Linked DNA regions of Homo sapiens: region 1 is linked to region 2. Evidence: fine-mapped expression QTL. A gene starts in region 2. The other region holds a variant in brackets. All regions are shown on one strand. Distances are between the middles of the regions.

Region 1 (5,379 bases), 98 kb before region 2:
TGCCAAACAGAACAGAGGCCATCTAGAGATAGGCTGCTGGAAGGACAAAGGAAGATGGCTGTTTTGTAGAGCCGGGGAGTCAAGCCAGGCAACCCAGTAGGTGCTGGAGCATGGTGGGGCAGGGGAGCTAATGCCACGGAGAATTAACTGCTGCTGGATGTGGAGATACCAGACAAGGAAGATGGGAAGGAGAGAAAGGCCCAGGCTTCTCTTTTCCCCCAACCCTGTAGTCTCCTACCAATGCCTCTCCTTGCCCAGAGGAGGTAGAAGTCAGAAGATACAGGAGCCTGGGCAGTGTATCCAGAGACACAGAGCAGAGAGAAAGGGCAGACATTGGGCCTGAGAGCAAACAAGCAAATGCCTAGCACACACACAGAAAAGCACTTACACATTCTCAATCACAGCGGGAGCATCCTGTTAGTGCTTGTCATTGTCACTGTTAACAAAATACAACAGCCTGAAGGAATAGGCTCTTAGCAAGAAAAGTGTGTCTGTGGGAAGCCTGCCTTTTATTAGTCACGCACAAGCATCATTTCTCCAGGAGTGGCCACCACATGGAGGGAAAGTCCTGAAATTAGAGTCCCAGATGTGCTTCTTATAAAGGGAACCTCTTTGTCTACGAAAACATGAGTTTCACATGCATCCTAAGGCTATAATAAGATCAGAGACATGAAAGTGTTTAAAAGTGCTATGCCGATACAGGGCATGCTTGTATTCTCCAAAGGGGGCATTTTCAAAAAAATCATTGTTTTATAAGTTCTTGATTACTTAACAGAGTTCTGATAACAAAAGTGTTATTGTTTGGGGATTATATTTGTTCACAGTAACTGCATTTTATATGTTTACAATGAAAATCATTTCACTTTTGCAATACTGGTTTCTTGTTTGCTAGCTCCCTGGTCTATTAGGTCATTGCACTAGGCAATGTGATATATTCTGAAATTTTCTGAAATTTTATTTACTATTTTTAATATACCACTAAAATGTTTAATTTTCCCCCCAGAGTACTACATTATATGTTCAGGAATATTTTACTTTGTCGGTTTCAGCAAAGAGTGTTCCGGGATGTGGTCAAACAGCCAGTGCACGCCGAGTGTCAACAATCATGCAGCAGCTGGCAGAGCTTGTTCGGCATTGATGAGCCAGGTGTGCAGCCTGGAGCCAGGCCCACACGACAGGAGCAACCAGGGTGGCCCAAGAGGGAGACCAGGACAGACCAGGGATACAGTTGGGATGCAGCATTTTGGGGCTCAAGTAGCTCCACAGACAGGTCTGGGTCCTTTGCTTCAGCTCAGGAGGGTTCATGTGGGACTTTTGCAGGGGAAGAAGCAAGCCCCAAATTGGTGTGGTTTAACATTTGCCAAAAAAGAGAGGTGTAGTCCAAGCATCTTAAGATATTTATCTTAAGGAACATTCCCAAGAAGGGGCAAACAGGAGATGCCAGGAATTAAGGGTATTTGGACTTGGACACAGGGATGGAAACCCTTCGTTTTCCGTGCACCATATGCAGAGAGCCAAAAGCGGTAGCATGGAGGGAACTCCCAACCAAGAACATGAAGAAAAGCTTGTCCTCAAAGAGCTAAATCAGCAAGTCTATTTGTGATATCAGATAGGGGATCTATGATTCTAGTTCTTCATGGTCTGGTCTCACCAAGACTGTTGAAATGTGTTTGAAAACACCCAAGATGCAGTAAAGGGGACCCAAGGATCACCACTGGAAAGGACTTAAATTGTGACTGCAATCAGGTAAGCAGGAACTTGGTCAACTCTGTTGAATTCTGTTAGGAGAAAAGTTGTTTGAACTTGAAAGCACAGGCAACCTCACACACAGAATACGTAAACTTGAAGACCCGGGCGGGCTAGTACCCACACAAACTCAATGAAGGGAGGAGGCAGGGTGGCCTATAGAGCCTAGCACTATAATCAGTGGACATAAATATATATGGCCTCTGAAACACACTGATTTATTAACTAAATTAGACAACTCCTTCACTTTGCTCCAATTCTGTATTCATCAGGGAGCCTCCTGAGTATAATTTTGACTCCCCTAGGAAAGCTGCTGAGAGAGATAATAGGCTCATCATATTGCCTGAAATATCTCAGTCAAAAGGATGCTCAAGGTTCTTATTGCAAAATGATACTGGTACTTTGATTTATACATCAGTCTCTTGTCATGTTGGTTAATGGGAGTTTGCCCCCAGAGAACCAGATTCACACCAAGTATCCTTAAAATTTATAACATTTGAAGCTGCAAAGCTGAAAAGCTGACCTGCTATAGTGTAGAATCTGCAGAAGGTAAATGCCAACTGACGAGCTATGTAAGCATTCACACAGCCAACCTCCCTTGATAACATCCCAACATTGCCACATGCCACGTTTTAAATTTAAACAAATAACAGTATAACAGTGTTGGGTGTGTATGTGCCAGTTCATTTCCAATGTTCCACACTGTAAAACAGCTTGAAGCCTGTAAAACTGGAGATGTTATTGTCTTGGGCCAGATCTGTGCTGCAGGAAAGGATTCAGGGTCTTTGAACTATAAATAAATTCAGTTAACACTGGGCATTAAATTGTGAACTGCTACAGCATAGTTTAGATATGGTAAGTCACAGAGCAATCAGTACAGTTTTCTATGTAGCTCCAACTACATTTCCTTCAGAGCCTTTTAGACACTTCTGGGACTTTTATAGTTTCTTAACAATTTAAAACTTTTGTACCAAAAATCAAATAGTATTCTGGCCATTAAACAAATGACCCAAAATATGTGATAACATTTTAAAAATCAAGAAATAGGAGACATTATAACTAAAAAGACAAACAAATTTGACCCTATGAAAGTTTCAAATTTCTGTGAAGTTAACTATCAAAATTAAAATTTAAAAGGCAAACATATTGGAAATATATTTGCAGCAAATACAGCAATAAACAAGCAAAAATTTTATTGAAAACTATTTGAATTGCCTAATAAATGAATGAAAATTAAAAAGAGAGAAATATTATTATATGCCTATTAAAAAGTAAGCAAATATACCTAACAAAAATTAAGAGATTAATATCCATTGCAAGCACAGTTGGGAAGAGTTAGATTCTTGCATGCAGCTGTTAGCAGCCCATATTTACATGATTCTTTCTATTATACATCAAGAGTAATGGAATCATTTACATTCTTTTACAACTACTCTGACTTTAAGATATTTACGCTAAGGAAA[A/ATATT]TATTTATTTATTTATTTATTTATTTATTTATTTGTTTATTTATTTGTGAAAGGGTCTTTGTCACCCAGGCTGGAGTGCAGTGGTAAGATCACCACTCACTGCAGCCTCAATCACCCAGGCTCAAGTGATCCTCCCACCTCAGCCTCCCAAGTAGCCGGACTACAGGCATGCACCACCACACCTGGCTAATTTTTTATTTTTTGTAGAGACAGTGTCTCGCTATGTTGCCCAGGCTGATCTCAAACTCCAAGCAATCCTCCCACCTCAGCCTTCCAAAGTGCTGGGATTATAGATATGAGCCCCTGTACTTGGCCTGAACATACTTACTTTTTTTTTTTTTTTTTTTTGCAGTTGCAAGATTTAATAAAATGAAAACAGAGCTCCCATACAATGGGAGGGGACCCAAAGGAGGTTGCCGCTCCCTGCTTGAATGCCTGGGTTTATATCCCGATCATTGTCCCTCCCCCTGTGCTCTCAGGCGATATATGATTTAACTATTTCTTTACCTCCTGCTTTTAGCCTTATTTGTATTTTAGTGAGCCCTCTTAACTACCTGATTGGTTGGGTGTGAGCTGAGTTATAAGCCCCGTGTTTAAAGGTAGGGGGTGTGGTCACCTTCCCCAGCTAGGCTTAGGAATTCTTAGTCAGCCTAGGAAATCCAGCTAGTCCTGTCTCTCAGTGCCCCCCTCAACAGGAAAACCCAAATGCTGTTCGGGAGGTTGGCCGATGACCGCTCTAACTGCTTCCTGCTGAATTGGGGCATAGTAGGGGCCGTGCAGTTGAGATTTCCTCGGGAGGGGTGCCTTCAATGTCATCAACATTGGAGAATGGGCTAGCAGGCTGGTCCAGGGGTCTGCGATAGATCTTAGTCATGTACTGCATCTGGGGCTCCATTTGAAGAACTGTTTGTAGGTTTATAGCTTCGATTCTTGAAGAGACAAACTTAACAAGGAGGTTAAAGATACAGGGATTGAAGAGTATGGCCTGAAGTGCAGGGGCATATGGGTGTGGGCGGTGAAATTGGGGTTTCCTTTAGAAAAACTCCTATATGATGGGGCATCAATATTTCTGGGAAGCTGCATTCTCCATAGAAGCTCTTGGTAAGGGGAGCTGCTGGTAGTACAGCGGCATAGAGCGGGTGCAATGAGAGTGAAACAGGGTAAGAGAACAGTAAAAAGAAAAACATGACAAAGGAGGGCCATGGGGATCTACGATTCTAGTTACTTTCTTCACAGTTGTCACTTGAAGAGCAGGTGCAGATCCTCTAGAGGTTCACAGGAATAGCTAGTGTTGTCTCCTGGATTTTCAGGTTCCTTTGGCAGTATCCAGGGTTTGACTCGAGTGTGATGTATCCAAGACTCCACTCCAGCCACTTTAACCACTAAGCTAAGTCCCGCTTTTTGGGGAGAGTTTCAGATTCTTAGTAAGGCTATAGGCAACAGAGCAGGCCATGTGAGGTGGGTTTCTTGGGTTAGCTTTTTTAGATGTCATTTGAGTGTTTCATTCATTTTCTCGACTTTTCCTGAGGATTGTGGCCTCCAGGTGCAGTGTAAGTGATATTGTATGCCTAACGCCTGGGATATTCCCTGGATTACTGCAGCCTTGAAAGCAAGGCCTTTGTCACTGTCACTCTGTAAGCCTTGGGGAAGTCCAAATCTGGGAATTATTTCATGAATTAGTGCCTTTATTACCTCTTGGGCCTTTTCTGTCCTACAAGGGAAGGCCTCTGCCCAACCAGTGAAAGTATGTACCCAGACTAGTAGATACTGAAATCCCTGAGATTTGCGCATGTGGGTAAAATCTAGTTGCCAGTCTTCTCCTGGGTAATGGCCTGTTCTTTGTTCTCCTGAAGGAGCTTGGTGATAAGGCAGGGGGTTATTTCTTTGGCACATTTCACAGGCCCTTACTATCTGCTTGATAGTTTTGAAAAGGCCTGGTCCAGTAAATAATGATTTGGCCATCTGATGGGTGCTATCAATGCCTAAGTGAAAGGTTTGGTGAAGGGTTTTAAGTAATTTCCATTGGTTAGCTGCAGGCAAAAGTATTTTTCCTTCTTCAGTGGCTAGCCATCCTGAGGGGAGGAAACTATGTCCTTGTAAGGTTCCTCATTCTATTTCTTCTGCTGAATACTGGGACTTGGTTTCCTGGAGGGGGTTACCCCATACTAGG
Region 2 (5,379 bases):
AGCCTGAGTAACAGAGGGAGTCTCCATCTCTCCAAATAATAATAATAATAATAAATGATATAGGCGTGGTGGCATGTGCCTGTGATCCCAGCTACTCAGGAGGCTGAGGCAGGACAATCACCTGAGCCCAGGAAGTCAAGACAGCAGTAAGCCATGACTGGGTCACTGTACTCCAGCCTAGATGACAGAGCAAGACCTCCTCTCAATCAATCAATCAATCAATCAGAACAATATGCATTTGACATCTATGGCCCCTGCATTTTCACGAGAGGATTACTACCTTCTTTACAGATGGCTTTAGATTTGGAGGCTGGCTAAGCATAAAATTAAAAGACGTCATGCTTGGAATAGCCCTTTTAAGAAACACTTAACTCCTTTACTTAATAGACAAGTGCACTGAACCACTCATAATTTTTTAAATTATTTTTATTTTAATAATTATTTTATTTATTAAGACACAAGGTCTCAATCTATAGCCCAAGCTGGAGTGCAGTCGCACCATCCTAGCTCACTGCTGCCTCAAACTGCTTGGCTCAAGCTATCCTCCCTCTTCAGCCTCCCAAGTAGCTGGGACCGCAGGCACAAGCCATCGCAACCTGTGCTCTGAAGCTTTAAGAGGCCAAACGATTCCTCACATTCATCCGATCAGTTACAGGTAGAGCCAAGACCAGAAGCCAGGTATCCTATTTTCCTTATAACACATTGCCTCTATAGCTTTATATCCATTTCTATGATTTTTGTTACATACCCAGTTCTGACCATTTCCTGTCACAATTTCCTTTGTCTACTAAGTAAAGTTCTAAATGCATGGTGACATAACATACAAGGCCCTACATAACCTGGCACAAGAGACCTCTCCAGGTACTCTCCTCCTCTAACAGTGTAGGAATACTCCTGACTCCTAGGATGCCAGGCATTTGTATAACATCCTAATAGAGTTGTGCTGGTGAAGGAAGGCCACATCCCTCTATCTTGTGAGAGTGAAGACTTGAGTTTCTCCATCACCAAGGAAGACTTGGGTGAAGGCACTCAAGTGGGAGGGACAAAATGACATCTGAAAACTGGAGGCCTTGGGCAGGGACCTCCCCTTCCTCAAACTAAAGGTGAATGAACCAAATTTTGCGATTCCAGGTAGCTTTTCATGTCAAATTTTCATGTCAAATTCTTCCGTGCCATCTCTGACCCTTTAGTAAAATCCCCTCCAAATATTCCAGAAAAACCTTGTGAGTTCATATTTGGCAAGGCCATCCAAAGCATGTTAGCAACCCAGCATGATGGTGTCAGTACTAATTACATAATGAGAGGCCCCAAAGAGAAGAGTATTAGGCAACAGGAACGAGGGCCACTAAATCCCAATCGCTTTTCCCCAGCAATGATTCTCCTTCAATATGAGGTTATGGGTTATGAGGATATGAGTTAGTCAATTAGCTTCCTTATGCAACTTCAAATTCCCTGAACAGATCCAGGAATTTTGCACATTCTGTTCCTTGTCCATAAACTTTGGTTCCCCTCCCCAAACTGTTGTTCTTTCGACAAACTCTATACATAATTCATATTCCTGGCTCAGAAATCATAATCTCTAAGTAACCTTTCCTGACACCCTATTCTCCACCTCCTCTTCCATAACCTGTGGTCTTTTTGAACAGAGTGGTGACATTTTGGGCTGGATGACTGAAAAAGCAAAGTAGAAAAACAGAACATAGAACATACAGGGCCTCCAGTTGCTGTGCCTGGCGGTACATGAAACATAGTATTCAATAACTATTCTTTGAATGCACAGTCATTTTGTTTTTTCCTTTAACAGTATTTCCTAATAGGTAACTCATGAACACTGCAAAAAATGTCAAACTGCACAAAAAAATTCAGGGAAAAGTACATTTTCCCCCCAATCCCATTCCCTCCTTTCTCTTAATACCAGTTAGCTTTCCTTTCAGATTGATTATGCATATATGGGTATGTAAATGTTTTCCCACTATTTGTTACACATAAAAATTATATACAATTCATATATTACATATGGTGCATGTTATATACACACACATAAACAGATCATCTCGGTTTTGCTTAACCTAAGTCAGGCTTTTTTTTTTTTTTTTTTTTTAGAGCAGCCCTCAGAACCAGGACAGGTTCAGAGACTTTATTTATTTTTTATTTACTATTATTATTTTGAGACGGAGTCCCGCTCTGTCGCCCAGTCTGGAGTGCCGTGGTTCAATCTCGGCTCACTACAACCTCCACCTCCCAGGTTCAAGTGATTCTCCTGCCTTAGACTCCGAGTAGCTGGGATTACAGGCGAGCACCACCACGCCCGGCTAATGTATTTTTAGTAGAGACGCGGTTTCGCCATGTTGGCCAGGCTGGTCTCGAACTCCTGACCTCAGGTGAGAGCAACGTAGTACTCCACTGTGCGTGCATACCATGATTTACTTTGCAGTCCCAGATTTACGGTTTCCAATTTATAAATACTGCCATTTTCACCTTCAAGCCCCGATGCCAAACACAGAAATACCAGGCCACCCCCACCCCCTCGCCGTGTGCCTCCCACATTTTCACACACATTTTCAGGAGCCCAGGGCGCAGCCTCACACCGAACGCCGCCTCTGCCGTCCCCTCACTTGCCCCGTGCCCCCACCGCAGGGCTGAAGGCGACGGAACCGAGCCTTTGTACCCCCACCAGCCCCGTTCCCTGGCGTCTCCCGGCCGCCGGGCTCGCCCGCTCAAACGTGGCGGAACAACCGGAGCCGGGCCCCGCCCTGCTGGAAGACAGGGCGGACCGGGCAAGGCAGGCGCGGGGCGGGGCGGGGCGGGGCTCCGGCTGGCGGGGCGCGGCCAGCGTGCAGGGCTGGGCCAGCGTGCGGGGCTCCTCCCCTTTCCTCCGGCGGCGCCGGCGGCCGCAGAACTTCCGGGTCGGCGCGGAGGCGGGGCGGAGGCGCCGCGGCGGCTGTTATTGTTCGGCTGGGCTCGGTCGGGCGCTGTCTCCCTCGGCTCTGCGGGTGTCAGTTCGTCCGGCTTCCTCACAGCCCCTCACTCCCGGCGGCTGACAGCAGCAGCGGCGGCGGCGGGCGGCGCCTGGCGTTTCGAGGCTGAGCGGCACCGGGGTTGGGGCGCGGAGGAGGAGCAGCAGCGGGAGGAGGAGCCGTGTGCCCTGGCACTGAGCGGCCGCGGCCATGGCGTACGCCTATCTCTTCAAGTACATCATAATCGGCGACACAGGTGAGGGCCCCGGGCGCGGCCGGGCGGGTGTCGGCGGCCTCCGGACCCGGGCTGAGGGGCAAACGGCGTCTGGCGGTGGCGGGGACGCGGACTCCACCCGGCGCCTCCCTCCTGGCCGCGCCGCTCCATTTCCGCAGTGCTGGAGCTGGTGACGTGGGCACTGCGAGCGGCCGCGGCCTGGCCAGGCCCGGTCTGCGGCCCCCGACCCGGCCAGTCTTGCAGCTGAGGGCCGTGGCAGCCGTTTGCGACGCCCGATTCAGGAAGTGTGTGACAGGAGGGGAGGCCTAGCGCAGGGCCGCCGGGGCCCGACTCACATGACTGCACCCCACCCCCAGGGCCCCTTGCGTTAGGTCTCTTCGCGGCCCCAGGAAAAAGAAGGAGGGAAACCTAGGGGAGCAGAAGGTGTTGGGGCCCGGGTCTTGGTTCCTGACCAGTCCAACCTTCCTCCACCAGCACGCATCTATCAAGGCCTGGGCAAGGCGCTTTTTGGCGTGGGACAGGCAGCCGAGAAAGAGAAAAGGAAACCTTTAAAATATGTATTTTATATATATACATATATATAAAATATGCTTTTTTAACACCTTCAACTCTCACGTCAGAATAAGTCACATCTCATTACTTGACGGCTGGAGAATCCCTTTCGGGGTTAGGAAAGCATGAACGAGTTCTGTGGACTTTTGCCACGTGTGAACTGGGGTTATATAGTAATGTAAAGTCGTTCAGTGCTCTGGGTGTGTACTTAGGTATGTGTATGTTGAGGACGCTGATGTTTTAGATATGTCAAGTCCGGTGTCACAACTGCTAATTTTCAGGTGAGCTCATGTCCATGAGCTGAAAGAAATTCAGTTATTCTCACTTAAAATGACGTCCTAGTATATTTCACAGAAAAGTAAACAGACTCTTCGTAGATATTTTTAATACCTGTGATTTGGCATTACTTTGAATCTAATAATAAACATAAAGATTGTTTAGATGTTGCAACTATTAATATACCAGAGTCTGATTTCAGTGGTTACTCTTGCACAACTTTGGACCCTTTGCACAACTTCGGTCATGTAAGCAGCAGTTTGTAGTTGAACTAATGATGTGGCAGGTTCTATAAGTAACTAAAGAAGCATGTTGGCCGGACGCGGTGGCTCACACCTGTAATCCCAGCACTTTCGGAGGCCGAGGTGGGGGATCACCTGAGATCAGGAGTTCGAGACCTGCTTGGCCAACGTGGTGAAACCCCGTCTCTACTAAAAGTACAAAAGTTAGCCGGGCGTCGTGGCAGGCGCCTGTAATCCCAGCCACTTGGGAGGCTGAGGCGGGAGGATCACTTGAGCCCGGAAGGTGGAGTTTGCAAAAAAAAAAAAAAAAAAAAAAAAAAAGCATATTTATTGCTGCCTGAAAGAAAAAATTTCTGCTAGATACATGAGTTTTCAGCAAGGTTTTCTGATGCGTGCGTGCGTGTGTGTGTGTGTGGAAATTGGATTTGTAAACTTTAAAAGAAAAATGCTGTGGTGTATTTGGAAGAAGGAGAATTCTAAAGTCTTCTGGCAAAATTTCATTTAGGCTGTAAAAACAAGATTGGAGAGGAATGCCACATTAACTGTAATATGAGTGGGTTTGAGAAATAGAAGCTTGTGACTGTGGCATTTGGCTATCTCATTAGTGGTGAAAATTCAAATCAGACTTTGCTGGTTGCCTTTTTTCAGTTTTTTATTTGAGGCTGTACTGTGGATAAATAAAGTATTGTGCATGGAGTAGTGGGGCTACAAATCCTAACAAGTTAATGCTCTGTTCTCTTGGAATTTGCTCTTATCCAAAAGCAGTCCCCACGCAATTCAAAGGGAAGACACTTCTTTCTTGTCATTGCTGCTGATACGACCTAGTTCAGGAACAGAATTCTTGACACTGTTATAGTCTGCAGCAGTACTTCTCCCTACTCCAGTTCAGCCAGTGTAGTTTACTGTCAGTTTAGTCATCCTGAAGCATGAATGTCAAAAGGCTACTCCTGTTTGCTCACAATTTTTAGTTTGACCTTCAGTGAACTCTATATTTTAGCCCCTATCTACATTTCTCGCCTTCTTTCCCGCTATTCCCCACCTTGCTTCTGCCATTGAGTCCCAGTGACTGATTTTGGTGTTTTTTTCCTGGGCACTGCTAGTCTCTATTCTTAGAGTG

Direction of the effects. Positions count from the first base shown, and alleles are read on the strand shown. Sizes are in standard deviations (SD) of each study's normalised expression.
As copies of ATATT replace A in region 1, the expression in neutrophils of the gene that starts at base 2,947 in region 2 goes up (moderate effect, 0.71 SD a copy in BLUEPRINT).

What was found. PIP is the estimated chance that this variant, and not a neighbour inherited with it, causes the effect.
Region 1: its variant is the best candidate, but not a certain one, in a credible set for the expression of RAB2A in neutrophils (BLUEPRINT, PIP 0.60).

What each region holds. Positions count from the first base shown.
Region 1 is chr8:60,415,858-60,421,236 of GRCh38, forward strand. No RefSeq gene overlaps it. Among named protein-coding and RNA genes, the nearest start is that of LINC01301, 4.7 kb to the left of the region's middle. The variant A/ATATT (reference allele first, on the strand shown) is at 3,210.
Region 2 is chr8:60,514,041-60,519,419 of GRCh38, forward strand. It overlaps RAB2A (RAB2A, member RAS oncogene family), which reads left to right and starts at 2,947. Exons shown (of 8, transcript NM_002865.3): 1 at 2,947-3,213. The coding sequence starts at 3,168. LOC124901949 (a long non-coding RNA gene) reads left to right here. Exons shown (of 3, transcript XR_007060922.1): 3 at 1-2,758. RefSeq lists enhancers at 2,095-2,955, 4,191-4,380 and a silencer at 2,531-3,400.